4 linked regions of the Homo sapiens genome follow. The protein of the gene in region 2 interacts with the protein of the main gene of each other region in a biochemical or structural test. Each region holds a gene or a part of one and is shown on either strand. Other genes may lie near its edges.

Region 1 (7,482 bases), on a different chromosome or scaffold from region 2:
GAGTACACCAGGAGAGTGGCAGATTTAGCTAAAAAGGCAGGTTATGACTTGATCTTTTAAAAGAGCCCTTGAATTTAGTCAGACTATTCCAAAGGCAATGGGAAATCACTGATGGTTTCGAAATAGAAGACAAATGAGTTTTGATTTTTAAATATACTAGCAGTCGTACACCACAAGTGTTTAACTGTACTCTTATAACCACTTTACGGAAATAGAGCTCATCTTCTCTGTTTTACAGTTGAGTCCCTTAAGAGAGGGGAAAGAAATGATTACATTCAAGCATAGAACATGTTCAGCTTTAGGATAGGTGAACTAAGTGTACCTACTAACAACTTAAAAATTTGGACTAGGGGTAAGTTTCAAAAAGGTTCCTTTCTCAACAGGGTGTCCTTGCAAAGATAATTTAATGTTTGGCAAACTGAGGGAAAAAAATTCTCAACTGCACCAAACTATTACTCAATGCTCCAGAATGAACACGATATGGAAAACTAATGTTTTCCTTAGTATTTATTTCCGCATAACCATCCACCGTTAGTCTGTATCTCATTATTCGTACGTAGTGTGAATCCAGTACTATTTTTCAAGTTACATGGCCTGAGAAAATGATTCTATCCCACAGCAAGACTATTTACTGGACTGGAAATCAATTTCCAACGACACCCATACTCAGCATTTTTAAAAGTAATTTTGTCTACGATAGTCACCTAACAAAATGTTTTTAGAGCCTAAAGTTTCACAGGCTTCAGGGACAAAAACACTAAAAAATTACACAATTGAAATTTTCAGCTTATTCCTTCCTAGCAGTCTAGAGGAAGAGGAACAGTGCCAAGAACCAGAAGGAACAGCTCTCACACGGCACCTGTAAAATTTTTTTATACTGTGCTGACTACCCCTCACCTAAGGGGAACAGCATTACTCAACTATTAAGGCCACTGAAACAGGAAAATGTTTGGTTGGGGACACTGACTTACTTTAGGAATTGCTCAAGGTTCCACTCACGTTGAAGGGACACTAAGATCAAGCACATACAATCAGGGTACAACACTAAGAAACTGTACTAGCTATAAAAAGAACAAAAGGTTGGACATTTCTTTTCCACAGAGTGCTCTTTTAGGAAACTTTCTCCTTTTAGTGTCATCTTCCTCTGAGCTGCTTCTCCTCAAACTTTCTGCACACTTGGCTAGTGTGAGAATCCAGACCTTCTCACTGGAAAAAATACTTGTATTTAAAAGCCTTAAAAAACCTATAGGAAAAGAAGTCAAGGAGACCCCTCTGCCTTCTTTCTAAGCTAGGTAAATGAGACCCTCTCAAAGCTCTCACATGGTCTAGTTCGCCTCATTAGTTAAAACACTACAAAGAAATTTGAGACAGCAACAGACTTTACACAACTGAGTTGTTTGCCTATTTCCTGAAGACCTGGTGGGCACCATGGTAGAAAATAGGGCAGGATTTTTTTCACCAAAAAAATCTCTCTAAAAGGCAACCAACAGGTACAGCTTAAGCCACTGGTGAGTGTTCTCATCTGGAAGTACATGATTTAAGCAGTAATGGGTTTGGTCACTATTTTTTTTTTTATTCTGAAACATTCCTTACATGAGATTTTTAATACAAAGCCTGCAAATGGTTTATCTTGAGGAAGACCTTTACTGTAGTCACTATGGGATATGGGATTTAACAGTTGATTGTTGGAGATGTTAAACTATGCTTTCTGCTTCTCTATTCTCTATCTTCCTCATTCAATGATAAGTGGTACTAGCAGTGGTGACCAACCACAGGCTACAAAGAACAGTAGGCCAAGGTATTGAAAACATTAAAGACCTGAAAGGATGCTAGGAGAAACATAAGAATGTCCCCTCCCTTGCTGGGCGTGGTGGCTCACGCTTGTAATCCTAGCACTTTGGGAAGCCAAGGCAGGCGGATCACCTGAGGTCAGGAATTCAAGACCAGCCTGGCCAACATCGTGAAATCCCATCTCTACTAAAATATAAAAATTAGCCGGGCATGATGGCGGGTGCCTGTAATCCCAGCTACTCGAGAGGCTGAGACAGGAGAATTGCTTGAACCCAGGAGACGGTGGTTGCAGTAAGCCGCAGTTGCGCCACTGCACTCTAGCCTGGGCAGCTGACCAAGACTCCGCCTCAAAAAAAAAAAAAAAAATTCCCTCCTTTCAAAGAGCTTATAAATTGGAAATACTAAAAATATTTATTCACAAATATTTATGAATATTATGAATATTCATGAAGCTACAGAGCAGCCATGTTCCAGGAGCCCAATAAGTATCTGAACATTCGGTTAACTTTCTTTCAATGACAGCCAGTATCTGTTCATCAGATCAACATAACCAAAAGGTAGCATTTATGAAAACAAGGTTTTAAGTGTCAACCCTATTAAAGCGTAACGCCATAAATAACTTATTCTAGGTTTCATCCCCCCAAGGCTTGTCAAAATTCAAAAGCCTATATAGTGGCAAGGCCAAGTTCATGGATTCTACCTTTAAGACAGTAAAATTATCACCACGATGTTCCACAAATCATTTGTTATCCCAATCTCTACCATCTATTTTGCACGTCATCACACAAAGGTCATACAGAGGACAGAACGCAGTAGTATAGATACATTTCCTCTCAGCACTTTCCGGAAAACTAAAAGCTTATGCCATTACTAAAGGTTAATTTCTTGTATTCTATTTGAGAGTCTATTTCTTTCAGAACTAAAGACAAGATTTACATGACTCAAAAGACAAGATTTGTATGACTGTGAATCAGCATTATAAAAACAGCCCTTGCCTCAAAAACCTATACTGAGCAACACAAAACACTGCTTTGGGGACTGGAAGAGATGATAAAATGAGGTGGGAAACAAAGGGAGTAAGTGCCTTAAGAAATTTTAAGAATCATCCTCAAGAAGACTTTACAACCAACCTAGAAAAATACAAAGGTGCGAACCAACAATAGAGGTCGAAGTGCAGTGCAATTAGCTGTCCATCAGGCAGACAGTAACTACTGTAACTGTTCATATAAAGATCTGGTTTACTATAAAGTTTTATTAACTTTAATGTTATGAAATGTCTGTATAAAATATGTAGATGCGAATATCAAGGCAGGGAACAACAAACTTCAGAAACATGGTTATTTCAAGAGAAGGATGCTTGGCAAAAAGATATGAACAATTTCACAAAACTCCAAATAGTCCCTTTAAAACACATTTTAATTTGAAATTTCTTCTGAGAAATCCTTTTTTATCTTAAGGTTTAACAGTAGGCACTGCACAGTATCTCACTGCATCACTGACAAGGTATTAACTTCCTGTTTAGTCGTAATTATAGGTGAAACAAGCATGCGTGTTCATTACACAAGGTACTAAGAATGGATTGAATATTACTAATTTTCTTTCGATCACCACTGAAGGTAAAGTCACTTAACATTATTCAAAGCCATTCTTTTGTAAGCATTATTTAAAAATGGGCAAAGAAACCCAAATTTAGATTTGAAGCTCTGCTCCATGAAAGCAAGAAGGGTGTTTTATGGACATTAAAACAAACAAAACAAACAAACAAACAAAAAAAACAAAGATTAACAGCCAAACAGCTGCCCAGTAGTAGAAAACATTCAATTACACATTAGCCATGAAATTACAGCAAGGTTAGGATTAATGTAAGTATTTCATACTGAAAAAGGTACAAGAAATCATGATTCACAATTGACAAACATTTAAATACGACAAATTCAGCTATGAAAAGTTGAAGGTCTCTTTTACAATAGATTATGTTGAAAGTATCATTAGGAGATAAAAATCAGATGTTTCAACAAAGTATAAAAATACTTCCCTAAACTTTTCCCTTCCCTACATAACAAGGTTGAGGATACAATTCTGAATAAATCTTATCTAATAAGAGAAACTGGGCAGTAAGATATTTGGTGAATGCATTCATTTTTAATTATGAAATAACACTGCTATGGTAGCAAGCTCAAGACCACAACATTTCCAAGAATGGAGAGTTTTATTTCATTAATTTCAAAATACTGGTTTTGGCAAGGGGAATTAAGTCATTATAATAAAAGACAAATCACATTGTAATAATACTAGTACAAAAAATACAGTATAGAAAATTTATTTTAAATACCTCCCCTACTAGATCTAATATTCTTGAAAGGTAAATTACAAAGTGACAAACAACTATTCATGTGTTTACATGCTTATTTTCACCACTGAACGCAGAGATTACCATAGATAAGGACCATCTTCCTCATTTATTCCCTGGGACTAGAATACTACGTCTAATGCAGATTAGGACCTTTACTCCCTTGTATCTGTGGTTCTTAATCAGAGAGGAGCTTCAGAATCACCTAGAAAATTTTCAAAATTATGTGTTTCCAGGGAAAATGATTTAGTAAGTCTAAGACCCCCATGCAGCTGTATTTTTTTTTTTAAATTCTAAACAATCTGACATTTAAAAATAAGTAAACAAGTATAACTGGATTGTAACACAAAGGATAAATGCTCGAGGTATATACCCCATTTACCCTGATGTGATTATGCATTGCATACCTGTATCAAAATATTTCATGCAACCCATAAATATATACACCAACTATGTACCCACAAAATTTTTTTAAAAACTCCAAATGTTCTGGAATATAAATGTAATTCATGTCACACCCAACAATATATAATATTCAGTAAGCTCTTCTATACGCTAACAGATACAAGAAAACTGCTATTTAAAAAAAGAATGCAAAAACCAACCTAGGTTTGAGATTTTAATCTGAAACATTTTTTTATCTCAGTGTTACGAACCTAGTTTCTTTTTTAATAGATAGATTATAGCAACATGCTGTGGAGAATCCTCAAAGATTGCCTGTCTTGGATAAAAAGGGTCACCTAAACTCAGGGGCAAAGTTTGACAGAGCAATCTAGTGACACAGTAGTTCATCCCAGTGATGGAGCATTCAACTTTTTATTTGTATAAATAACAAAAACTAGAATCAACACTGCAGATGAGCATGATGAAAGAAAAGTATGCAGTGTCAGTAATGCATCCTTTTTCAAATTAAACAAATACTGAGGTCCTATTATTATCAGCATCCTTCAGTCACAACTATCCTACACAGAAAGTGAGCTGGCTATCAACAAGCTTTGAGGACCATATATGAAACACATGCAAGACAGTTTACCCAGCCTATATACTAGTTGGGGACAATAAATATATTTTGTTCACTCTAAGACATCCTAAGCAGTTAACTGGCACATGTTAGTTTTCAGTGCTTGAAGAGACTACCCCAAAAGAATTAAATCCACTTCTACTTTCAAAATATTATTAGCCAAAATCTTAACTCACAAATTAGCTATAACCTAAGAGTAAAGCTAACTCCCAATTACTTAGATGTATAAGTGGGAGAGCAAAGCAGCTTATTTCAGGTAACAAACTAAAATCACATACATTATAAAACAGGAATTGAAGGGCCAGGCCACGTGGTGGCTCACGCCTGTAATCCCAGCACTTTGGGAGGCTGAGGCGGGTGGATCACGAGGTCAGGAGATCAAGACCATCCTGGTTAACACGGTGAAACCCTGCCTCTACTAAAAAAACAAAAAAATTAGCCGGGGGTGGTGGTGGGCGCCTGTAGTCCCAGCTACTCAGGAGGCTGAGGCAGGAGAATGGCGTGAACCCAGAAGGCAGAGCTTGCAGTGAGCTGAGATCGCGCCACTGCACTCCAGCCTGGGTAACACAGTGAGACTCCGTCTCCAACAACAACAAAAAAAGGAATTGAAATGGTTCAAAAAAGAGCTTGAGCTTTTGGTGCCTATCTGATTTGAATCCCAGTCACTTACTAGTTGTGTGACTAGACGACTATTTCTCTGAGCCTGTTACTTCATCTATAAAATTCTCACATCTATCCCACATGGTTGTCTTGAGGATTAAATGAGTTAGGGTTTAGATGAGACTGCATTGTCTTAACTACTGTAATAGATAATACTATATGCAAAAGTAAACCGTTCTGAATGACAAAAAAAAACTAAAGGATGATATCAAACTGTAGTTGTTAAGAGCACATACTCTGGACCAGGCTGCCTAGGTTCTAATCCCAACTGTCACAACATGAACCTGGGTCATCTTCTTAACCTCTATGCCTAAGTTTTTCAATTTCGAGATGGAGATAATCTTGAAATTATCTCAGTGGAAGTGGTGGTAGGAGGGAAACGAAGATCAAATGAGAGTTTTTTAACCCTTTACCCATGGTTTCCCTGCTAGCCGCTTGCTTATAATCATATATAAACACTAAAGTCATACTTCCAGAAATAAAAACCCTTACGAAAACTTAACAGGGTGTATACAATGAAAACATGAGCTATTCTTTTAGGCTTGGTTCACATATTTATCTTCAAACGTCCCTAAAACACATATATTGTAGTCCCTGTTTAATGGGAGTGGTAAAATTGTCTACAGCTCTCAATACCAATCAACTTGGAGTGCCACTTTTAACTCCTGTTGTTTAATAGCCCTATTTAAGACCATATTACAGCTCGTTCAAATAAAGAATACAGGAAAAAAGTTGATTGGTCTAACAGTCAAAAAACTTACTCCAAGAACACAGCTGAAGCAAAGTATAAATTCAAAAGCTCGATCAAATGGACTAAAGGTTAAAACTATTCCAATAATCATTTCAGTAAAATATTAACGAGGAATACAGATATATCATAATACTTGAAATGTGGGACCTTCAGACAAGAATAAATTCGAAATAGGTACGTAACACAAGCATACCATACTGACATCAATGGCTACTTGACCCCATATTTCTAGAAGAGGTGCCTAAACCGAAGAGCATTCCAGTTCAGAGCTGTCCACTCACTAAAATTGTTGGATGTGGAATGTTTGAAAGTTGCCTCATGTGATTTTAACATTAACAGCTGAAAAACCAAACCACATGCACACGTCAAAGTTTCTGTAAGTTGAATCAATAATGTTCACATAAACACTGGTTTTTCCAATATGCCAAGTTTTTATGTTGTGTCTATATTACATAAATCTTCAAAATATTTACAAAAGGAGACAACCTGGTTAACTAAGAGTACTAAACTAGAAATCAAAGTTCTTAAACAAAAACGATTTTTAAAAATTATAAATTGTGATATTAAAATAGCAGTAATAACTAGGAGTGTCATGTGCCAAGAGCCTGTTCAAATTTGCACATTAATCCATTTAATCGTCAAAACAAATCTAGGAACTTAAAATTTGTTTTGTTCACTGCTGCCACCCCAATGTCTAAAACAGTGCCTGGTACATATTAGGCACACAGTCATTTATTGTTCATATTACAACAGATACCCTTCTTATAGAGGCACATAAACTTGCCCAGAGCTAGAATTCTAACTGGAGCATTTCTGCTCCAATGTTTACACTCTTAACCACTGTTATATTGTCTCTCTAAAGCTTTTAAATCATTTAAGTGGTGTCACAGCAGCTGGGTATGACCTGTA
Region 2 (7,482 bases):
TTAGGCGAGCCACGTAAAGGAGTTTGGACTTGATCCCAAGGGTCCTGGGAGGCAGTGAAGGGTTTTAAACTAGAGACAGATATGATCACATCTATGTCTCAGAAAGGTTTCTCTGGCTAGGGGGTAGAGGAAAGGATTGTTTAATCTCTTTCTTCTTAAAAAGTACCCTCTTGGGCATAATAAAAACTATAGGCTCAAACATGGAATGCATCAGAGATAAGAAGATAAAGCACTTACCCTTAAGAAGCTTGGTCTAATGGGCAGGGCAGAAACCAGTCCCAAAATAGTGTAAAAAGCAAAATGCTCAGCCAGGCCTGGTGGCTCACGCCTGTAATCCCAGCACTTTGGGAGGCTGAGGCGGGCAGATCATTTGAGGTCAGGAGTTCAAGACTAGCCTGGCCAACATGGTGAAACCCCATCTCTACTAAAAATACACACAAAAAAAATTAGCTGGGTGTGGTGGCGCATGCCTGTAATCCCAGCTACTCGGGAGGCTGAGGCAGCAGAATCGCTTGAACCTGAGAGATAGAGGTTGCAGTGAGCTGAGATTGTGTGCCACTGCACTCCAGCCTGGGCGACAGAGCGAGACCCTGTCTCAAGAAAAACAAAACAAAACAAAATAAAACAAAACAAAACTCTACCAGCACCAGGAGTAGATAAGAAGGAGCTCCTAACTCTGCTGTGGGTGCGGGAGAAAACTTGAAAGAAGTGACTTCTGAGCTGAACCTTGAAACATGAGTTCACAAAGTAGATTCAGGGAGTTGGGGGTAGAGTGGGGAATGGGACTAGGTATACAGATAGAGAAAACGTACTCAAGGCAGAGGAAAAAATACAAGTAAAGAAACGGCACTATAAGCTGATTTATATTATAAGAAAGCATCAACACCAAAAAAAGTCAGAATGAAGTGTGTATTTCATGCCAAAAAAATCAAAAGGAGAACAAGTAATTTCCACATTACTTTTAGATGTAATGCTACAACGAGTTAAAAACAAACAAACAGGCTGGGCGCGGTGGCTCACGCCTATAATCCCAGCTCTCAGGGAGGCAGAGGCGGGAGGATAGCTTGAGCCCAGGAGTTCGAGACCTGCCTGAGCAATATAGTGAGACCCCGTTCTCCACAAAAAGGAAGAAACAAACAAACAAACAAAGCAACAACAATACTGACACCTAGAGTAGTCAAATTTATAGAGACAAAAAGTAAAATGGTAGTTGCCAGGGGTTGGGAAGAGAGGGAATGGGGAGTTGTTTAATGAACATGTTTTTATTATTATTATTATTTTTTAAAGATAGGGTCTTGCTCTGTATCCCAGGCTGGAGAGCAGTGGTGCAATCACAGCTCATTGCAGCCTTGAGCTCCTGGTCTCAAGCAATCCTCCTGCCTCAGCCTCCCAAGCAGCTGGAACTACAGGCGTGTGCCACCACGCCTGGCTGTTTAATGGATGTAGAGTTTCGGTTTTGCAAGATGAAGAGTTCTGGAGGTTGACTGTGCAACAATGTAAATGTACTTAACACTACGGAACCATACACTAAAAATGGTTAAGATGGTAAACTGTATGTGTATTTTATCACAATTTTTTAAAATCTAAAAAAAACAAAAAACAAAACAAAAAAAAAAACTGAAACAAACCCCAAAACACTGGACCAGAAGTCAGGAAATCTGAATTCTATTCCCAACTATCGGCGTGATCCTAGGCAACAGCCCATCTGTACTTCAGGTTCCCAATTAAGGTCATAAAAGTTATAAAATGGGCTGGGTGCAGTGGTTCATGCCTGTAATCCCAGCACTTTATGAGGCCGAGGCGGGCAGATCACCTGAGGTTGGAAGTTGGAGACCGGCCTGACCAACATGGAGAAACCCCGTCTCTACTAAAAATACAAAATTAACAGGGTGTGGTGGCACATGCCTATAATCCCAGCTACTCAGGAGGCTGAGGCAGGAGAATTGCTTGAACCCGGGAGGTGGAGGTTGCAGTGAGCCAAGATTGCACCATTGCATTCCAGCCTGGGCAACAAAAGTGAAACTCCGTCTCCAAAAAAAAAAAAAAAAAAAAAAAATTATAAAATAATCTTTAAGGTTCCTTTGGTTCTGATTGTTTGTGATACCATATCATCTCATTTTTTTCTATATTATTTCATCCTTGTATAAAGCCACTAACTTGAGATGGTGATATTCTGGGCATAGATCTTTTCCCCTCAGACCAGTAGTTTACCACTGGCAATTACTTCCCTCTTGGCTTAAAGGTAACTACTGGATTCTACATACTTCTCTACAGCGCCTTTCCCCTTCTCCTCCCCACAAAGCCCTCTTCTAGGTCAGAAGGTTACTGGCACATGAGCAATAAAGGCTAGATAACTTTTGATGTTATTTGCTAATATTTGTAATTATTTAAAACCTCTTCTAGAATAAACTGATGTTATTCATTTTACTATTAGAGCAGATTCATATGGAAAGACAGATAAGAAATGAATATGGGTTATTTGATTTTTATATTATATACAGTAATATATATACACATAAAGATTAAAATAAGTACTTTAGTACATATACTAAATAAAGGGCTTTATCTTACACTACATAATTTTTTCAAAGAAAGAAAAAAAGATACTGATTCGGTACTATTTTTACAAGACCTTTTACTAGGGCATTCTCTGTTACACAGCCATTGGCAAAAAAGTTTAGCACTAAATCTAGGATTTCTCAGTAAGTGACAATGTTATATTTTCTCTAATAACCCTCACCTGCTTCACTTCAGTTAGCCCCATCCTTATTTTATATAAAATTAAAAGATTCTTAGTGCCAGTCTTTCCTCATCAGCTTTTGGGAAGACAAATAGGCAGCAGTCCCAGCATGAGTAGAGAGCCTGTATCAATTACTTGCCTCTCAATTTAGTGAGACTGAGGAGAGTTCAAATGAATTCCAACCCTTAGGCTCTCCTTCCCACACCATCCTAGTTTGTAGTCTCAGTGATAATATGAGCGCCCATTGACTCCTGTTAGATAGAGAAAAGACACTCTCCCTAATGCACAGTCTCTTGATCTCTTCCTATTACAACCTGCTAAACCCTTCTGCTGCAGATACATTAAGGTTTGAAAACTAACAATTTATGGCCAAACAATTAAGCGCGTGTTTAAGATGCAGGAAAAAAATGACACAATTGCTTGTGTTTCTGTTATAGTAGAAAAATTCCAGCCCGGCCAACTTGGCGAAACCCTGTCTCTACTGAAAATACAAAAAATTAGCCGGGCGTGGTGGCACATGCCTGTAATTCCAGCTACTCGGGAGGGTGAGGCAGGAGAATCGCTTGAGCTGGGGAGGCGGAGGTTGCAGTGAGCCAAGATCGTGCCATTGCACTCCAGCCTGGGCGACAGAGTGAGACTCCGTCTTAAAACAAATAAAAAATTAAAAAAAGAAAGAAAGATGACAATTAAAGGGTTTATTTTACCACCACCAAGATAAGTGGAGCTTGTGTAAGTTTTAAATAAATGCATCTATAAGGAAAAAATTGGAAGCTTTCCATTGATTCTTACATCAATGAATATAATTTTAAATATCATTAATGTTCATACTGTTTCATAACTTATACGATTATCTGAATAGTGTTTCAAAAGCACTTGAAATATCTTAAAGATCAAAAGGATCTTAAATGCGTCAAAAATAAGTAAACGTTTAAGTTTTTTTAGCAGTAGGAGAATTCTCATCTTTTTGGAGGGAGGATGGTCAAGAGCTTAGAGAACTATTACAGGTAAAGTACCCAAAAGTGTACTCAGTTTGAAACTTCTTCTTTAACCTTCGATGTTGTTGGCAAGCACTACAGTGTCCATCATCCTTAAAGGAGAGATACATATATTTTGAGACAAGATCTTGCTCAGTTGCCCAGGCCGAAGTGTAGTGGCATGATCATGGCTCACTGCAGCCTTGACCTCCCTGGCTCAGGTGATCTTCCCCGCTCAGCCTCCCAAGGAGCTGGGACTACAGGCACACACCACCATGCCCGGCTAATTTTTGTATTTTTTGTAGAGACAGTTTCATTATGTTGTCCAGGCTGGTAGAACTCATATTTTTAATCTTTTTTCCATGATTAATGTAATGATATTTGGAAATGAGGCCTTTGGGAAGTAATTAGGTTTAGATGAGGTCATGAAGATGAGACCCCCCCATGATGGGATTAGTGTTCCTAAAAGTAGAGGAAAAGAGACCAGAGTACTTGCTCCATCTTGTCCCATCCAATCCCAACCCATGCCATGTGAGGACACAGTGAGAAGGCAGCCATCTGCAAGGTAGGAAGAGGGCCCTCATCAATAACCAAATCAGCCAGCACCTTGATTTTGGAGCCTCCAAAACTGTCAGAAATAAGTCTGTTGTTTAAGACACCTAGTCTATGGAATTTTATTATAGCAGCTTGAGCAGACTAACACACAGCATTAAGGTTACGTTTAAAAAATGTCCATATCCACCTGTCCCAGCCTCCCAAAGTGCTGGGATTACAGGTATGAGCCACCACATCTGGCCCTTTCTTGCTTTTTAAAAACAGCAATGCATACCTTTCTGTAATGAAGTCTGACTTGACTCATCTTGCATACTGTCTTTCTGAGCATTCACTAGATCTGCAACCAGAACCTCAAGTGATTTATAGTTGCTCCCAGATATCTGAATTTTTTCCTCCATTATTTTCTTAATGTCCTTGAAACTGAACCCCATTCGTATAGCTTCTTGTACCATAGGATTTTGGAAGATGGTATCATCTGAAATAAAAATTGGTGAGGAAAAAGAACATAGAATTTAAACAATTATTTTCATTATCACAACTCAATAGCAAAATATAGTTAAAATGAAAAAATTAAGGAGCAAGCGAAAGAATAAAAACAAACCAGCAAAGCAAAGCTGCTTTGGGAAGATTTTTTGAAGTATTCAGGCACTGAAAAATCACTTTCAGAATCTTACAATTAATTGTAAATGCAATGAGTATGTATTTTGTAGTGTTTGAAACGATGCAAGGTAAAATAGGCAAGAAAAAGGTTAAGTGCTTCAAAAATCTGAACTGTTTTGAATCTAGCTGTACTCATTAACAATTAACCTAAGTTACTTAAAGAGTGGATGTTGTTACTGAGTCACTAGCAATTATTTGGGGAAAATGATGGGAAATCAGGGAAGTCCCAGTCTATAACCTTGAATGTGTCAATTTCCTAGCTCTCAAACTTCGTTTCTGTAGCAGAGCGGGTAGGACTGAATAAAGCAAGAAAGTCAATGGAAACTTGTTTTTATGATACTTAAAGTAGGAACACAGCATGTGTAGGGAAGTGCTAGGAGAGGACACTTATACCCTCTGACTCATCAATTCCACTCTTGGGTATTAAAAATGAGTGTATATCTCTGCCAAAGATATGCACAAGAGTATTCATAGTAGTGTTATTTATAATAGCCCCAAACTGGAAACAACTCAAATGTCCATCATCAGGTGAACAGATACATAAATTGTGGTATATTCATACGCTACACAGCAAGAAAAAAAAAAAAAACTATTGCCACAGACAATATGGATGGATCTCATAGATATAATGAGCAAAACATAATCATAATTCATCATTATGACACAAAAGAGTACCTACTGCATGAGTCCATTTATAAGAACTTCAAAACTAATCTATGGTAATAAACAAAATTAATCTATGGTAATAGAAGCCAGAATATAACTTGGGGGTGGGTACTGATGGGGAAGGAGCATGAAAGAACTTTCTAGGGTTGTGGGAATGTTCTATATCTTAATCTGGGGGATAGTCACACAGATAAATATATATATTTTAACATATACATTTTAATATATATTTAACACATATTTAATATATATTTTAACATATATATGTTAAAATTCATCAAGTAGAAAACTTACGATTAGGGTACTTTAAGCACTTTATGTGTGTATGTGTGCGTGTGTATATATATACAAAATCATATATATATACAAAATCATATATATACAAAATCATATATATATACAAAATCATATATATATACAAAATCATATATATATACACAATCATATATATATAAAATCATATATATATAAAATCATATATATATATATATATATATTTTTTTTTTTTTTTTTTTTTTTTTTGAGACGTAGTCTCGCTCTGTCACCCAGGCCGGAGTGTAATGGCGCGTCTCGGCTCACTGCAACCTCCACCTCCCAGGTTCAAGCAATTCTCTTGCCTCAGCCTCTCGAGTAGCTGGGATTACAGGCATGCACCACCACGCCTGGCTAATTTTTTTGTATATTTAGTAGAGATGGGGTTTCACTATATTGGCCAGGCTGCTCTCGAACTCCTGACCTCGTGATCCACCTGCCTCAACTTCCCAAAGTGCTGGGATTACAGGCGTGAGCCACTGCGCCCGGCTACTGTATGTATATTATAGCTCAATAAATGTTTTTTGAAAGAGAGGAGGCTGGGTGCAGTGGCTCACACCTGTAATCCCAGCACTTTGGGGAGGCCAAGGGGGATTCCTTGAGGCCTGGAGTTTGAAACCACCCTGGTCAACAAAGTGTGACCCTATCTATATTAAAAAATAAAAATAAAAGATAAGGCTGGGCATGGTGGCCCACGTCTGTAGTCCCAGCATTTCGGGAGGCTAAGACGGGCAGATCGCTTGAGCCTAGGAGTTCAAAACCCCGTCTCTGCAAAAAATACCAAAAAATAAAAAAAAAAATTACCCGGGCATAGTGGTGGGCGCCTGTAGTCCCGGCTACTCAGGAGGCTGAGGCAGGAGAATGGCGTGACCCCCGGAGGTGGAGGTTGCGGTGAGCCGAGATCGCGCCACTGCACTCCAGCCTCGGTGACGGAGCGAGACTCCGTCTCAGAAAAACAAAAAAACAAAACAAACAAAAACAAACAAACAAAAAGAAAAACTCTGTTGGCAGGTTATAATACAGACAAAAGACCAGTTAGGAGACTACTACAATTGTCCAGTTGAAAAACAAGGAAGGGCCTGAACTAGAGCAGAATAAGTGGGAAAGTCTGAAGCAACATTAAAAAGGTGGAATCCATCAAATTTGATGATTAATTAAATGTAAAAGGATTACAGAGAGCAAAGAGCTTAGGAACAACATAAATTACTGGGCAACCTTGTGAACTGTGGTACTATTAACCAATACAGGAGAAAAAAGTGCAGGATTAGATTCAGTCTGAGTGGTTTTTAGAGATGCATTCTAGGTGGAAATGTCCAGAGGGCAACTAGACATTGCTCTTTCCTGCTTCTCCTATCTTTGACTTGTTTTTATTTTCAGTTTGTTTTGTTGCTCCATTACTTGTGCCCACCTAATTAGATGTTGGTGGCTCCCTTCCATTCCCTCATCGACCCTTCTGAAAAATGGTCTTTCCAGCTGGGCACAGTGGCTCACGCCTGTAATCCCACCACTTTGGGAGGCTGAGGTGGATCACCTGAGGTCAGGAGTTCAAGACCAGCCTGGCCAACATGGCGAAAC
Region 3 (7,482 bases), on a different chromosome or scaffold from region 2:
GGCAAGCCCGTCTGTCATTATATGCTACTTACAGGGGAGGAAACTGGGTTCTGAGAGCAACAGTCACAAAGTGAGTTCCAGTACAGAGCTAGGACTTGGGCCTAGGTCTTCTGGCTTAATAGAGCGACTGTCCCATTTTCCATGAGCTGCTGAGAGATGTCCTTTTTAGATGCTGGGCCTTAGACTCCAGAGTACTGCATGGGAATGTTTCCCAAGGTAGGTTTCATGGTGACCCACAAAGGAAGAGCTGTGTATTCATATGTATGGGAAGGTCTGGCTGAGCAAGAATAGGGCCAGCAGCAGAGCCTTTAATAAGTGAATACAGGAAAGGATGCTGTAGGTCAGTGTTTCACACTGGGGACGATTTTTCCCCGACCTCCAAGGGACATTTGACAATGTCTAGAGACAAATCTGGTTGTTATAGCTGAGGGTGGGTGGGTGCTACTGGCATCTAGTGGGTAGACAGAGATGCTGCCAAAACCCAACAGTGTACAGAGTAGCTCTGCACAATAAAGAAGAATCTGGCCCAAAGGGTTAGTGTGGTGGGGCTGAGTACACACACTGCACTCATACATATTCATTGAGCATGAGTGTCAATGAATAATAATGTGGACACATCAGTTTTATTGAGTTGTCAAGTGTGTCGGGTATTGTTCTATGTGCCTCACATGTATTAATTGTTTGAGGTGTCATCACAATCCTATGAGGTTGGTAGTTGCTCCTATTATCCTGTAATACAGATGGGGAAATCAGAAGCCCAGAGACTCTGAGCTCCTTGCCCATTGTGACACAGGTGCTAAGTGTTGGAGTTGGGATTTGAACCCAAGTACCTCAGACTCACTCCATCACTGTCTCATGAAGAACAAATGGCTCATTCTCTTTCTTGTCCCTATATTTGTGCCATTACTCATTAGCTCACACAAATGTTTACTAAGTACCTGTTGGGTTCTAGGTGTTGGGGATGCAGCTTCGAACAAGGATGCCCAGTCCTTGCCTTCAGGTGGAGAGGGGCAGGTACTCAGTTCATGCTTGCCTAATTTGGTCTTTATTCACGGCTGTGGGTAGTGCTATGAAGCTGAACACGGTGCTTTAGAGGTGCATCATTAGGGGACCCACCAGAGAGAGTGGCTTTGTCTTTGTATATTCAAAGGAAAATGCCTTTTCCTTCAGAATGGAAGGAACTTTCTTAGTTTCAGACGTGATGCCTTGTGTGTAACTGCTTGTTCCAGCCAGGGCCTCTTGCCCGGGAGGACTGGGAGAACTGTTGGTGGCTGTGTTCTCATGATTCTCCAGAGAAAGAGAACCAATAGGGGGTGTGTGTATGTGTATAAAACAGCATCTTTTGTTCAATGCTGCATCCCCAACACCTAGAACTCAGCAGGTACTTAGTAAACATTTGCATGAGCTAATGATTAATGGCACATATACACAGACAAGAAAGAGAATGAGCCGTTCGTTTTTTTTTTTTTTTTTGAGACGGAGTCTTGTTCTGTTGCCCAGGCTGGAGTGCAGTGGCGCGATCTCCGCACACTGCAAGCTCTGCCTCCTGGGTTCACGCCATTCTCTCGCCTCAGCCTCCCGAGTATCTGGGACTACAGGCACCTGCCACCATGCCCAGCTAATTTTTTTGTATTTTTTTTAGTAGAGACAGGGTTTCACCATGTTAACCAGTATGGTCTTGATCTCCTGACCTCGTGATCTGTCCGCCTCAGCCTCCCAAAGTGGTGGGATTACAGGCGTGAGCCACTGCACCTGGCCAAGCCATTTGTCCTTTATGAGGCAGTGATGGAGTGAGTCCGAGGTACTTGGTTCAAAGCCCAACTCCAACACTTAGCAGCTGTGTCACAGTGGACAAGTAGTTGAGTCTCTGGGCCTCTGTTTTATATATATACATATACACACATACACACACGGATATATATAGAAAGATATATGCATTTTTTTTGTGTGTGTATATATATATATCTTTATCTAAAAACATATTTATTACAAGGAACAGGCTCATGCAATTATGGACGCTGAGAAGTTCCAAGATCTGCCATCTGCAAGTTGGAGACCAGGAAAGCTGGTGGTGTAGTTCCAGTCTGAGTCTGAAGGCCTGAGATCCAGGAGCACCAATGGTAGAAGTCCCATTCCAAAGGCAGGAGAAGACTGATGTCCCAGCTCAAGTAGTGAGACAGAGAGAGATCAAATTCTCCCATTCTCCACTGTTTCGTTCTATTCAGGCCCTTGACGGATTGGACGCGGCCCACCATCCTGGGGAGGGCCATCTGCTTTACTCTGTCTACCTATTCAAATCCCATTCTCATCCCCAAAACACTCTCACAGGCACCCTGAGAAATACTGTTATATTTAACCAAATATTTGGGTACCCTGTGATCTAGTCAAGTTGACCTGTGAACTCAACCATCAGTGGCTTTCTCTGCTCATGCCTTGCCTGGGTTGGAACTTCCTTGAAAGTAGAAGTTGGCTTTTCAGCCCTACCTGGCTTCTTGGTCTCTTTGCTCTGGGGCTGGTGGCTGTGCTCACCTCCCATTACAACTCAGGGTCTCTGAGCCCCCAATTCCCCTCTGGCAAATGGGGATGTGTGCCAGTACTTCTGTGCTGAAGGGCCTGCTCTGAGGAGTAAATGAGGCAGTGTGTGGAGGGACTTCACATGGGGCCTCCTATTGAGTGAGCCTTGGGTCTTGTTGGTCAGCTCTGCTTCCTTCTGTGATTTCTAAATTGCCAAGGGCTGGGGAGGGCCAGTCCTAGGGCATCTTCCCTTCTGTAGGGTCCCCCAGTTCCCCTGTTTCTTTCTGTGTCCTGATTGAAAATCACAGAGTGCTTTGACCACCCTGTGACCCAGCCAGCTACAGGTTTTTCCCAGCAGACCTGAGCCCAAACCTGGGCCTTAAACATTCTCAGGCATTGATAAAGGTATCTAGGTAGGCTGGGCATGGTGGCTCACGCCTGTGATCCCAGCACTTGGGGAGGCCAAGACGGATGGATCACTTGAGGCCAGTAGTTTGAGACCAGCCTGGCCAACATGATGAAACCCTGTCTCTACTAAAAATGCAAAAATTAGCTGGGCGTGGTGGTGTGTGCTTGTAATCCCAGCTACTTGGGAGGCTGAGGCAGGAGAATTGTTTGAACCTGGGAGACAGAGGTTGCAGTGAGCCAAGATTGTGCCATTGTACTCCAGCCTGGGCGACAGAGCGGGACTCTGTCTGAAAAAAAAAAAAAAATTAGGTGTGGTGGTGTAGTCCTAGCTACTTGGATGGCTTAGGAGGGAGGGTCACTTGAGCCCAGCAGGCAAAGTTTGCAATGAGTTGAGATTGTACCACTGCACTCCAGCCTGGACAAGAGAGTGAGACTCCGTCTCCAAAAACAAAACAAAACAAAAAGGTATCTAGGTTATCACCCAAAACAACTGAAAGAAACCAGCCTTGGCCCTGAGCCAAATTCCTTAAACCCTCATATAAACTCCTTACCCTGACCTCTTCACTTTGGACCAAACCTAGGTAGACACCTGTTTTTTTTTCTCGCCTCCGCACCTCGAGGATTGCTTTGGCCAGATCGCCCTGGCATTTATTGCTTCTTTCTTTGGAATCCCAACTGGCCCCATCTTAGGACAGTTTGGGGCACTCCCTTGTGGGAACTCTTCTGCTGCCACTTCTGGGGTGATTCCAGCATAGGTTCGGAGGGACGAAACCCCTTCTTTCCCTTGGGTGGCAGAGAGGATGTGCTTGCCCTCTTCTGTTTGTGTTGGAGACCTGGGCACATGCCCAGTGACTCAGGCTGGAAGACTGATTCTTTTGCACACACTTAGCCATGTGTGTTTATTGTCCCCATGGGAGTGGCCATTTCAGGAGAAACTGGTCTCATGCACCTTGTATCTGACCATGTCACCCAACTTGAGGGGCCCTGAACATGCCATGCTCCTGCATCCTCCCTGCCTTTGCTCATGCCGGGGCCTCTGCCTGGAGTGTCTCCTCTCCCTCTTTCTTTGGGCACCCCTTGGTTGATTTGCTCCCTCCATGGGCACCTGTAGCCCTTGGCCTCTTGAGAGCAGTCATTTTGCTTTATCAATAGATATTTCTAATTTGGGGAATGAGTGAATTCCTCAGTAGTGGATAGTAGTTATATTTTTGGGGTACAGCGGAATTTTGGAAATGAGCAAATGTTCTCAGAATGAAGTCTGTGGATGAATAGGAATTTTCAGGGTAGGTAAAACCATTTCTAACTTTAAAAATGGGATGTGAATGGGATGTGAGTGCTTTTCTGCTGTGGCCTTTAAGCTGGCAGAATAGTTCAGACCTGTTCTAAGCAAGGAATGGCACTGTTATTGGAACAGGAGTATGGGCTCCACTGCAACTTGGAGGTGGCCACTGTATTCTCCTTGTTTAAAAAAGAAAAAATGTAGGCCGGGCGTGGTGGCTCATGCCTGTAATCCCAGCACTTTGGGAGGGTGAGGCAGGTGGATCACCTGAGGTCAGGAGTTCGAGACCAGCCTGGCTAACATGGTGAAACCCCATCTCTACTAAAAATACAAAAATTAGCCAAGCGTGATGCAGGTGCCTGTACTCCCAGCTACTTGGGAGGCTGAGGCAGGAGAATCGCTTGAACCCAGGAGGCAGAAGTTGCAGCGAGGCAAGATCGCGCCACTGCACTCCAGCCTGGGTGACAGAGCGAGACTCTGTCTCAAAAAAAAAGAAAAAACATCTCATAACCTTTTAGGCTGGTGGCCAGTCAACTTCTTGCTAACGGAAATGAAAACTCTTTTGATGTTGATGGAAAATAATCATCTTTATTCATTTATTCATTCTGCAAGTATTTCCTGAGGACCTGCTGTGTGCTGGGCCCCTGTGGACTCGCAGACAGTGAGCATCCGCTCTCCTGAGCTTCTCTCACCTCTTTCTGCTCTGGAATTTCTTCTCAATGAGACCACACTATTTCTATACTCTCTGGTGTCTGGCTTTTTTCACGCAGCACGTTTTCTTTCTTTTTTTTTTTTTTGAGATGGAGTTTTGCTCTTGTTGCCCAGGCTGGAGTGCAATGACGTGATCTCGACTCACTGCAACCTCTGCCTCCCAGGTTCAAGCGATTCTCCTGCCTCAGCCTCCCGAGTAGCTGGGATTACAGGCGCCTGCCCCCTCGCCTGGCTAATTTTTCTTTTTTTTTTTTTTTTTTTGTATTTTTAGTACAGATGGGGTTTCACCACGTTGGCCAGGCTAGTCTCGAACTCCTGACCTCAGGTGATCTGCCTCCCAAAGTGCCAGGATTATAGGCGTGAGCCACCGCACCTGGCCTTACGCAGCACATTTTCAAGGTTATCCCGCATTGCGTGTATCAGTGAAGCGGTGTCACTCGTCTGGGGTAAATACCCAAGATTCATTGTCTTCACAGCCACGGAAGACTAGGACACGGACATACAGTGAGGTTCAGAGTGGAAGTATAATAGGTGAAAGAAAGAGAAGAGCTCTGTCTGCTGCAGAGAGAGGGGTTCCAGTGAAATGGGTTGCTGTTTCTGCAATGAAATGCAAGGGGTTTTAAAGATGAGCCTGAGGAGATGGTGTCTGATTTACAAAGGGCACAAAGATTGGTCAGACCAGGTGTTTCATTTGCATAGGATGCATAAAACTGGTTAGGGCTAGGTGTGCCATTTGCATGTGGTGCGAAAAGCTGGCCAGCCCCACTCCAATCTTGTGTTATGCAGATGGGTTCTCTACCTGGCCAGTGCCATGTTGCCTACTTCTTTACTGTCTTGTGGTAACAAAAGGGAAGATAGAGCCTCTTTGCTGAGTATATCTGGCCCCCTGGTAGCCCTTTTCTATTGGCACAGCTGCTGGCATTCACTCCTGTGAGCTTCCAGCTTGCTTATCTATGTCTGCAGCTTGATTTTTCAGGCTGCTCTTTTTTAGAAAAGAAATGATTTGAGGCTGGGTGCAGTGGCTCACACCTGTAATCTCAACACTTTGGGAGGCTGAGGTGGGTGGATCAACTGAGGTCAAGAGTTTGAGACTAGCCTGGCCAACATGGTGAAACCCCGTCTCTACTAAAAATACAAAAAAATTAGCCGGGCATGGTGGTGGGTGCCTGTAATTCCAGCTACTTGGGAGGCTGAGACAGGAGAATTGCTTGAATCTGGGAGGTAGAGTTTGCAGTGAGCCAAGATAGTGCCATTGCACTCCTGCCTGGGCGACAAGAGTGAAACTCCGTCTCAAAAAAGAAAAAGAAAAAAGAAAAAAAAGAAAAGAAACGATTTGGGGATTTTGTTAAAAGGGAAATTCTGCCGAGGACTGTTTTACCCTCACTATCTGCCTAAATAATTTCTTTCTGTCTCCTGTATCATCAGTAGCTCATTCCTTTTTAGGCTGTGTAATGTTCTCTTGTGTGGCTGTATCACAATTTGTATATCTACCAAACTGTTGTTAGATTGGTTGTTTCCATGTTGGGGCGTGATGAATAAGGCCTCAGGGAACATTTTGGCCAAGTCTTTTGTGCCCGTTTGCACTCCTTGCTCTTTGATATATACCTAAGGGTGGACTTGCTGTCAGAGGGTAGGTGTGTGTTTAACTTTGTTAGAAACCTCTAAACAGATCTCCAAGGTGGCTCTCCCACCAGCAGAGTCTGAGGGTCTGAGTTCTCGCTGCTCCGTTCTTGGGGGGCTGTCCTCACAGAGCCCCTTGCCCCTCCTCTGCTGTAACCCAACATTCATGTTTCTCTCTTTCTCTGCCTCTTCAGGTGCTCTTGAGAGTTTGAGGGGAAATGCAGATTTGGTGAGTCTCCATGAAATTTGGGCCAGTAGCTCGGGCTCTGGGCCCTTCCCTCCCCACCCCTCAGGTCCTTCCCTGCAGGTGTGTCAGGAGCCCAGGGAACCCAACCCTAGGCAGTGCAGTGGGGGTCTGGTCTCAGCCTCCCTGACTCCGGCCCAGCGCCTGCTGGGGCAGATTGTTCATCTCTGCGCTTCCTCATCTGCAAAGCTGACAGCAGAAGCAGGGCAGACCTGATGAGGGGCAGTCATCGGGATCCAGACCAAGTCGCCACTCTCTCATTCACAAGTATTTATTGTGTGGCTCCCATGCTCTGTGCTGGGGCCACCTGGGAAGGAGCCATCAGTCAGTTAGGCGAGAGAGAAGTTAGACAAATGAGTATATAAATAGAAATAGTGATAAGTACCATCAACAAAAGAACAGGCTGCCTTGAGAGAATTACAAGGGGACTGAGCCTGGGGAGAGGGCAGCCTTGGGTGCCTCCAGGTGGCCTGGGCATGGTTCTGCTGACAGAGTTCTCAGGTACACCCCGGCCTAGGTGACCCGTGAGGTCCTTTGGGATGAATGCTCATGGCTGTTGGATTTCCAGGTTACCAGCTCCCTTCCCTTAATACCAAGATGGGGGGGTCACCTTCTAGTGCTAGTCTTCCCTGCAGTTGCTTCTCTTTTGCCCTGGAATGCCGGGTGGAGACCCTGCTACTCCTTGTGCGAGAGGGCAGACCCCGTT
Region 4 (7,655 bases), on a different chromosome or scaffold from region 2:
TCCTCATGACCCCACGCAGCCCAGTCCCCCCTTGCCCAGGGAAAGGCCACTTTCCCTTTGTCCTCCCTTTGTCCTCCCTTTGTCCACTCCCAGAATCTGCCTGCCCCCACAACCCCCACCACACCTGGGTGCTCTTGCCAGAACCAGGCTCCCCAGACACCAGCACCACTCCAGTGGGGTTACTCTCCAACTGCTCCAAGAAGGTAAAGCGAGCAGCCCAGATGGGCAAGGCTTGGCGCTGCTTCAGCAGCTCATAGTAGCGGGAAGAGAAGGGAAGCCCATCAAAGGGGTTCACAGCCAGTTCAGACTCCCCAGGACTTGGGCCATACTCTTCTGCTAGCCTGAGAGGCTGAGAGGTCATGGTGGCTCTCTGGCAGGACCTGCAGAAGGCAGAGCAGCCAGTAAGGTCATATTTGGTGACCGACACCATCTTCCCACCTCAGCCCTGATCCTTAACCTCTACCTTCAGTTGATCATGCTCTGGGGCCCACCCTTCCCAGCATTTCCTGCCAGGAAACAGTGCTAGGTATTTTGATAAAGGGCTACTGAGAGTTAGTCGACAGTCCCTATAGTCAGGTAGTAGAAATCTACCTGAGACTATTACCCCGTTGGCAGGTAGTAGAAATCTTACTTAGGCAGGGGTCCTCAAGGGCAGTAGAAATTATGTGAGACCTAGTAACCTGTGGGAAAGTCCTGAAGGGAAAAGGATAAAGAATATAGGGGGTGGGGAGAGGAACAGCAGAGTCACAGGGATCCTGGATTCAAACCTGCTTGCAGCTCTAGGACGTGTCAGGACGGCAGTCAGCTCCAGACCCACGTAGTCACCACCAACCCTGACCGTGTGAAGTACAAAGGTAAATTCCGGCTCTACCTCAGGGATGGGCTCAAACTTCAAATCCTGAAGCCTGCTTTTGGGGTGGGGCTATTTGCTCCACCTTATTTAACCTAGTCAGGAACCTATGGAAAACAGGCTCCAGCTACCACACTGAGCATGTGTGAACTCTATAGATGATGTGTAGTGTGCTTGTGAAAGGCATGCTGGGACTTGTAGTTTTGCAGCAGCTTCCTCCAAAACCTGGGCTGATCACCCAAGCTGGGTCTTCAGTTCAGTTACACTTCCTTAATTTATCACTCATCACTTGGCATGAGGAGGTGATTTTAGACAGTTGCAGTCTGACTACCCCCTTCAAATGTACGAGAAGACTCTCACCCCCATCCCCCGCAGCCAAGGAATAAGGAACCCACTCACAGGGCTTTTGAGACCGAGAGAGACAACAGATGCCTTGAATGAAAACCATGAATTTAATGTGACATTGGGGGAGCCTCATCCTTCCCTTTTTACCACCCACCCATCCAGCCTGTTGTGAGTTGGGTGAGGGCTGCCCCCAGTCTCCGTCCTGCGGCTCTGGGTGCCATCCTGTTCCTTTGAGCTCAGTCAGCCTCCTGGGCTCGTCTCTCTGTGAATCTCCTGTGGGACATAGGGAGAGATATTATTCAGGCTTTGCCGTAGTAGCTCCATAATTCCATTCTCCAATTTGCCACATCCTATTAATTGTCCTCTAACCCCCTCACCTTCTTGCGTATTCATATAGTGCTTGCTTGCGCTCCTGCAGGCTCTCCTGCCGGGCCCAGGAAGACTTGGCAAATGTTAGGGCTGTTGGCTGAGGGGTCACCGGGCCAGAGCTGGGAAACTGAGGTGATCACAATGTCAGAGGGCTTGCGGAGTCATCATCATTAAACACGCATCGAATGCCTACTTTGCAAGAGAGGCACTATGCTAGGGTCTCAGGATCAAAAAAGAAAGGTCAGGGATAAGGGAGTACATAGCCTGCCCCCAACTCACCCCAACACTTGGATCTGACCATTTCCTGGGTCTCACCTTGGAGGCAGAGGCTGTGGGTAGGGACTGAGTTCCCTTGGTGATGTCTTCAGGCATGAAAGCTACGGCCCCCTCAAGCAGATTAGTGATAGTCAAGTCTACACAGCCAGTCTTGGCTGGGGAGAAAAGAGAAGGGAGTCCACTCCCTACTTACTTTCTTCCTTCACAACCCACTTTTCCTCCCTGTGCCCATCTCCCAGTGTGGGGCCACCCTTTCCCATACCCAGGTCTCTCTGGATGACACCCAATGGCACATGGGGCAAAACTTCCTTGACTCTCTGAGCCAGAGTTGCCAGTTGCACATCAGGAGAAGGACCAGGGGAGGGAGGGAAAGAAGACTGGGCTGTGGAAAAAGGAAAAAAAGAAAAAAGAAATTCTGGTAAGTAGAGAACTAGAAGGAGAGGCTAACTAGCACAGAAATAGGGGAGGAATCACAGTAGGCCGAAAAAAAAAAACCCCAAAAGCTGTAATGTATAGAGACCACATACCTGACTGGGGGCGCAATCTGGGGTGTCTTTGTCGCTTCATGTGCTCTGCTTTGTCAGCTGGAGTGAGCCGTGTCCCTGTCTGGCCCAATTCCTTGGCCACCAGCTAGGGAGAATTGGAAGACTGGAAGTGTCAAGATCTCAAGCTTTCCTCCCTCTCCTCCTAAGCAGGGACCCCGCCTCCACCCTGTCTGTGCACCCGACCACCTGTTGTACACGGAGTGCAAACTCCTCATTCGCTTCCCCTAGTTGGCGATGAACAGGACGAAGCCACCTGCAAAGAAACAATCCAGGGCTATGTTGTGGGCACCCAGGGTAGAGGCTGTCACCATTCCCCACTTTGGTACCTCTTTGCATGGTGGGTGGGAAAATAGTAAATACTGTAAATACTTTGTGTTGCCTCTGTGGTAGAACCTTGATATAAAGATCTACAAATGGACAGGGCAGAGGCCACTAATTCCTTGACCTTGAGGTGAGCCTCTCCCCAGCGACCAAAATGTGAGGACAGTTAATACCTTACTTGATACACCGTGAAAGGGACGAAAAGTGACCACAGCAGTTCTGAGACCCAGGAGGCATCTGACACCGTCTGAGGGGAGGGCATGAGATGAGGCCTAAGCCAGGGCCAGGGATGGGAAATTTCCCCTTCAAGCCCCAGAGATTCCCTGTTCAACACACACTCACCACAGAGACCAGGGGTCTCTGAACTTGCAGGGTAAGAGGTTGTACCACATCTTGGATAGAAAATGGCCAGGAACTAGAAGAGGAAGGAGAAAGTAGGATGGGAATCCAGCCAGCCTAGTCAGCAGCTCACACCTGCCTTATAACAGGCAACTGTCAAACTCTACAAGCACATAATTGAAGAATGAAGGGATTCAGGAGAAAGAACTTAAAGTGGACAGAAAGGAAATGAACTGGAGATGATGGGGTCTAAGGGCCGAAGAAAGTTGTAAAAACTCAAGGGCCCACAAGCTTGACCACCTACCCAGCTGGCGCCCCATACCTGTGCTAAACCCACCTGAAGCGCAGGAGCCCCTCCCGGCCATTGGTGGCCTCTTCCTCAGGGAATAGCAGCAGAGGAGTGGGGGGAAGCCTCGTGGAAGCACAGAATCTCTTGAGTGACTCCACCAACTCCCCCCGCCCATTCATCTCCATGAAGCCCCGAGACCAGCACACAAAGCTGGGGGGACTATTGAGTAGAGGCTGGGAACCAGGAGAAGAGAAAGCAAGAAGAAAAATATTGAGGAAAATGAAAAAAAAAACTGACATGTTGGGTAGAGGATCGGGGTTAGGGGTAAGGCTCAGTATCCTCCATGGGGAACGCGAGTGGGGACAGGGGGGCCTTCAGCTGGGCCCCAGGGAACCGCCCCGTGGCGCTCTCGGCCTCGCTCTCACTCACGGTGCTACAGGTGGTAAGCAAATTGACTATGTTGTGGTCGAAAGGTGTCACATGGTTGGAAATGAGGACCCTGACACTGTGATCCCGGAGTCCGGAGTCCTCCTGCCGGGCCACGAGCCCTAGCACCGCACACATGGTCCGCACTACGAATCTGGGGACACAGGAGGTGGTGACTGTGTGGCCTCGGGCCAGACCCAGCTCTGACACTCCCCGAACGCCCGCGTCGGAACCTGCGAAGGACGCTGTCTGGCAGCGCGCAGCTGACCAGGAAGACGTGGATCCCGAGAAAGAGGCGCAGGACGAGGAGGCAGAACCCGACTGGCGCGTAGAGCAGCAGCACGAGCAGTAGGAAGCAGTCACCCGGAAGCCTGGGGGCGAGAGGCGAAGTGGTCAGGCGCCGAAGGCCGAGAGCACGCGGGGATCGGTCTCTTCCCGCCGGGTCTCTTACCGGTGCGAGTCAAAGAGCCGCTCCGGCCCCGGCCCTGAGGGAAGCTCCATAACTGCTGCTTCAGGAGCGCCCGGCCGTCGCCGCCGCCGCCATTTTCGCGCCCGGCCGCAGGGGCTCTTGGGAAGGCGGAGTCTTTGGGCATCCGCCCGGGGTGAGGGGACCCGAAGTCCTGAGGCGCGCCGGAAGGGCTAGCGGTCCCAGCATACCCCGCGGCCCCTTGGGCCGTCTCACAACTCGCGTCCGGCGGAGACCACAATTCCCGGCATTCGTGGGGCAGGGAGGAGTCGGCCTCCCGGAATCCTGGTCCCGGCGTGCACTTCTGAAGGACTTCAGGTACCGGCGTGCCCCGCGTCCTACTGTCCGCCTGCTCGCGTCCTGGGTGCCGCCTCTGAGTAGGGCGGGCGAGGAGGCAGCCAAGGCGGAGCTGATGGCTGCGCCGAGGGCGGGGCGGGGTGCAGGCTGGAGCCTTCGGGCATGGCGGGCTTTGGGGGGCATTCGCTGGGGGAGGAGACCCCGTTTGACCCCTGACCTCCGGGCCCTGCTGACGTCAGGAACTTCTGACCCCCGGGCCCGAGTGACTTATGGGACCCCCAGTCTCTGGGCCCGGTTGTCTGTTGGGGTCACTGAACCCCGAGCATGCCTGACGTCTGGGACCCCGGGTCCCCGGGCACAACTGACTGCGGTGACCCCAGATACCAGGACCCGGGAGGCCTCAGAGAACTCTGGAACCCGTTCGCGCGCGTGGCTGGCGGTGGCGCTGGGCGCTGGGGGGGCAGTGCTGTTGTTGTTGTGGGGCGGGGGTCGGGGTCCTCCGGCCGTCCTCGCCGCCGTCCCTAGCCCGCCGCCCGCTTCTCCCCGGAGTCAGTACAACTTCATCGCAGATGTGGTGGAGAAGACAGCACCTGCCGTGGTCTATATCGAGATCCTGGACCGGTAATGGTGGGGGTAGACCGGGAGGCACTGAAGCCACAGGCTGGAGGGCGGGCGGGTAGGAGGGGTCAGAGCCTCCTCTTATCTGTGCTTTCCCTCCATTTCAGGCACCCTTTCTTGGGCCGCGAGGTCCCTATCTCGAACGGCTCAGGATTCGTGGTGGCTGCCGATGGGCTCATTGTCACCAACGCCCATGTGGTGGCTGATCGGCGCAGAGTCCGTGTGAGACTGCTAAGCGGCGACACGTATGAGGCCGTGGTCACAGCTGTGGATCCCGTGGCAGACATCGCAACGCTGAGGATTCAGACTAAGGTGGGGGCTGGGGTAGGCCAGGTCTGGTTGGAGCTGCTTATTTGCTCGCATCTTCAGATGACAGGTCTCTTTTACCCATTCTCCCTTAGGAGCCTCTCCCCACGCTGCCTCTGGGACGCTCAGCTGATGTCCGGCAAGGGGAGTTTGTTGTTGCCATGGGAAGTCCCTTTGCACTGCAGAACACGATCACATCCGGCATTGTTAGCTCTGCTCAGCGTCCAGCCAGAGACCTGGGACTCCCCCAAACCAATGTGGAATACATTCAAACTGATGCAGCTATTGATGTGCGTCCTGATAGGAGAGAAATGACAAATGATGGGGGAGGGGGGAGAGGCTGTGTGGTACAAGCACCAACTGATATATGGTGGATGAGCCTATATAGAGCTTAGGCTGCAAAAATGTGGCCACTTATTCATGGGCTGAGAAAGAAGAGAATTTGGAGAAAGTACCTACATCCTGGTATGCCCCCAGACTTAGAATCCCCAGATCTCTTTCATGTTTTCTCCTTGTCCTACAGTTTGGAAACTCTGGAGGTCCCCTGGTTAACCTGGTGAGTGAGACATCCTTCCTTCCAAGAATCCCTGCCCCAGGTCAGTGTGGGAAGGGTAGGTTTCCCCTAATTCAAGGATGTTTGGTCAAGTTTCTGAGCAGTTCTTTGTTGGCTATCTCTCAATATCCAACCAGATCTCCCCAACACTTGCTGGTACTTTTGTTCGGGTGCCCCCATCCCCTACTATTTGTTTAGGCTAGGGAACTGGGGGCTGTATCCCTGCAGGATGGGGAGGTGATTGGAGTGAACACCATGAAGGTCACAGCTGGAATCTCCTTTGCCATCCCTTCTGATCGTCTTCGAGAGTTTCTGCATCGTGGGGAAAAGAAGAGTGAGCCTGCCTTATGGGGAAACGGGTTCCTTTAATGTGGTGGAAATAGGGGAAGGGCATTCAGTGGGACTTCCTGGAGGGTGGTCTACTGGGAGAAGAGGGCAGGGAAGGAAGGATGTAGCTGGGTGGGGCTCATTTGTCCCTCTGTCACAGATTCCTCCTCCGGAATCAGTGGGTCCCAGCGGCGCTACATTGGGGTGATGATGCTGACCCTGAGTCCCAGGTATGAGCTTTAGGGACAGTGACATGTAATGTGACCAGTGTAATCAGAGGGGGGCACCTCTATTGAGCTTTGTTCTCATTTCTGTCTTTATCTAAGATGAACTGTGTCACACTTGAAATAATCACAAGAGCTGTCTCCCTTCATCATCTTGACTTTCTTATCCCACTCCACTTTGTACACCTGTCACCAGATTGATTTCATCCTGTTACTGCTTTGATTTCAAGCCTTCAATCCATTAACTTGGCATTTAAGGGCCATTTTCCATCTGTCTGTAAATCAACTTTCTAGACCTGGCTGTAATACCTTCCTATATGAATACTCAGCCAACCTGATTTCCTACTCCCATGTTTTTTATTTATGCTGTTCTTGTTTTATATGGTTAATATCAGATCCATCCTTTTAGGCTCAACTTAAGTTCTTTCCCCTTAAAGCTTCTCTTAGTATTCTAGAATGACATTAGTGCTATTGATTTAACACTGTTTGTCATTTGGTGCCCTCATGTGGTGTACATCTTTTATGTACATGTTGCACTTTATTGCTAGAAGACAGAAAGTGAGTTGCCATTGTATTTTGTAGTACCTAGCCCATGTCCTGTCCATATATTTATCAATGTGTTGATGAGAGACTTGAGGTGGAACTCAGGATGGGGAGAATGCCTGGGTTTGGCTAATAGGGTGATCTGTGTACTTTCAGCATCCTTGCTGAACTACAGCTTCGAGAACCAAGCTTTCCCGATGTTCAGCATGGTGTACTCATCCATAAAGTCATCCTGGGCTCCCCTGCACACCGGTGAGGGAGAGGCTGCAGTGTGATATGGGGATGGGCAAGGTGTGCATGTGTCCTTGAACTAGGCTTTGTACTCCTTCCTTTCTCTCTGTCCATTTTTCTCTATAGGGCTGGTCTGCGGCCTGGTGATGTGATTTTGGCCATTGGGGAGCAGATGGTACAAAATGCTGAAGATGTTTATGAAGCTGTTCGAACCCAATCCCAGTTGGCAGTGCAGATCCGGCGGGGACGAGAAACACTGACCTTATATGTGACCCCTGAGGTCACAGAATGAATAGATCACCAAGAGTATGAGGCTCCTGCTCTGATTTC

The links.
Region 1: the proteins of XIAP (region 2) and UBE2D3 form a complex in vitro, tested with the Homo sapiens proteins (5 studies listed by BioGRID).
Region 3: the proteins of XIAP (region 2) and CASP9 form a complex in vitro, tested with the Homo sapiens proteins (12 studies listed by BioGRID and IntAct, with this or other methods).
Region 4: the proteins of XIAP (region 2) and HTRA2 form a complex in vitro, tested with the Homo sapiens proteins (10 studies listed by BioGRID and IntAct, with this or other methods).

What each region holds. Positions count from the first base shown.
Region 1 is NC_000004.12:102,817,190-102,824,671, forward strand, and holds part of UBE2D3 (ubiquitin-conjugating enzyme E2 D3), read right to left. Parts: intron 1-7,482. UniProt on the Homo sapiens protein: Accepts ubiquitin from the E1 complex and catalyzes its covalent attachment to other proteins. In vitro catalyzes 'Lys-11'-, as well as 'Lys-48'-linked polyubiquitination.
Region 2 is NC_000023.11:123,897,755-123,905,236, reverse strand, and holds part of XIAP (E3 ubiquitin-protein ligase XIAP), read right to left. Parts: intron 4,745-7,482; coding exon 4,544-4,744; intron 1-4,543.
Region 3 is NC_000001.11:15,507,152-15,514,633, reverse strand, and holds part of CASP9 (caspase-9 isoform alpha precursor), read left to right. Parts: intron 1-6,726; coding exon 6,727-6,761; intron 6,762-7,482. UniProt on the Homo sapiens protein: Involved in the activation cascade of caspases responsible for apoptosis execution. Binding of caspase-9 to Apaf-1 leads to activation of the protease which then cleaves and activates effector caspases caspase-3 (CASP3) or caspase-7 (CASP7).
Region 4 is NC_000002.12:74,525,369-74,533,023, forward strand, and holds the start of HTRA2 (serine protease HTRA2, mitochondrial isoform 1 preproprotein), read left to right. Parts: upstream 1-4,564; 5' UTR 4,565-4,638; coding exon 4,639-5,144; intron 5,145-5,248; coding exon 5,249-5,453; intron 5,454-5,542; coding exon 5,543-5,737; intron 5,738-5,970; coding exon 5,971-6,003; exon of another isoform or gene 6,004-6,043; intron 6,044-6,198; coding exon of another isoform or gene 6,199-6,228; coding exon 6,229-6,334; intron 6,335-6,487; coding exon 6,488-6,557; intron 6,558-6,889; exon of another isoform or gene 6,890-7,250; coding exon 7,251-7,346; exon of another isoform or gene 7,347-7,451; coding exon 7,452-7,617; 3' UTR 7,618-7,655. Other genes in the region: ATP-dependent RNA helicase homolog DQX1, read right to left, coding at 125-361; lipid droplet-regulating VLDL assembly factor AUP1, read right to left, coding at 1,432-1,468, 1,573-1,691, 1,880-1,995, 2,103-2,222, 2,368-2,470, 2,572-2,638, 2,880-2,953, 3,049-3,121 and 4 more.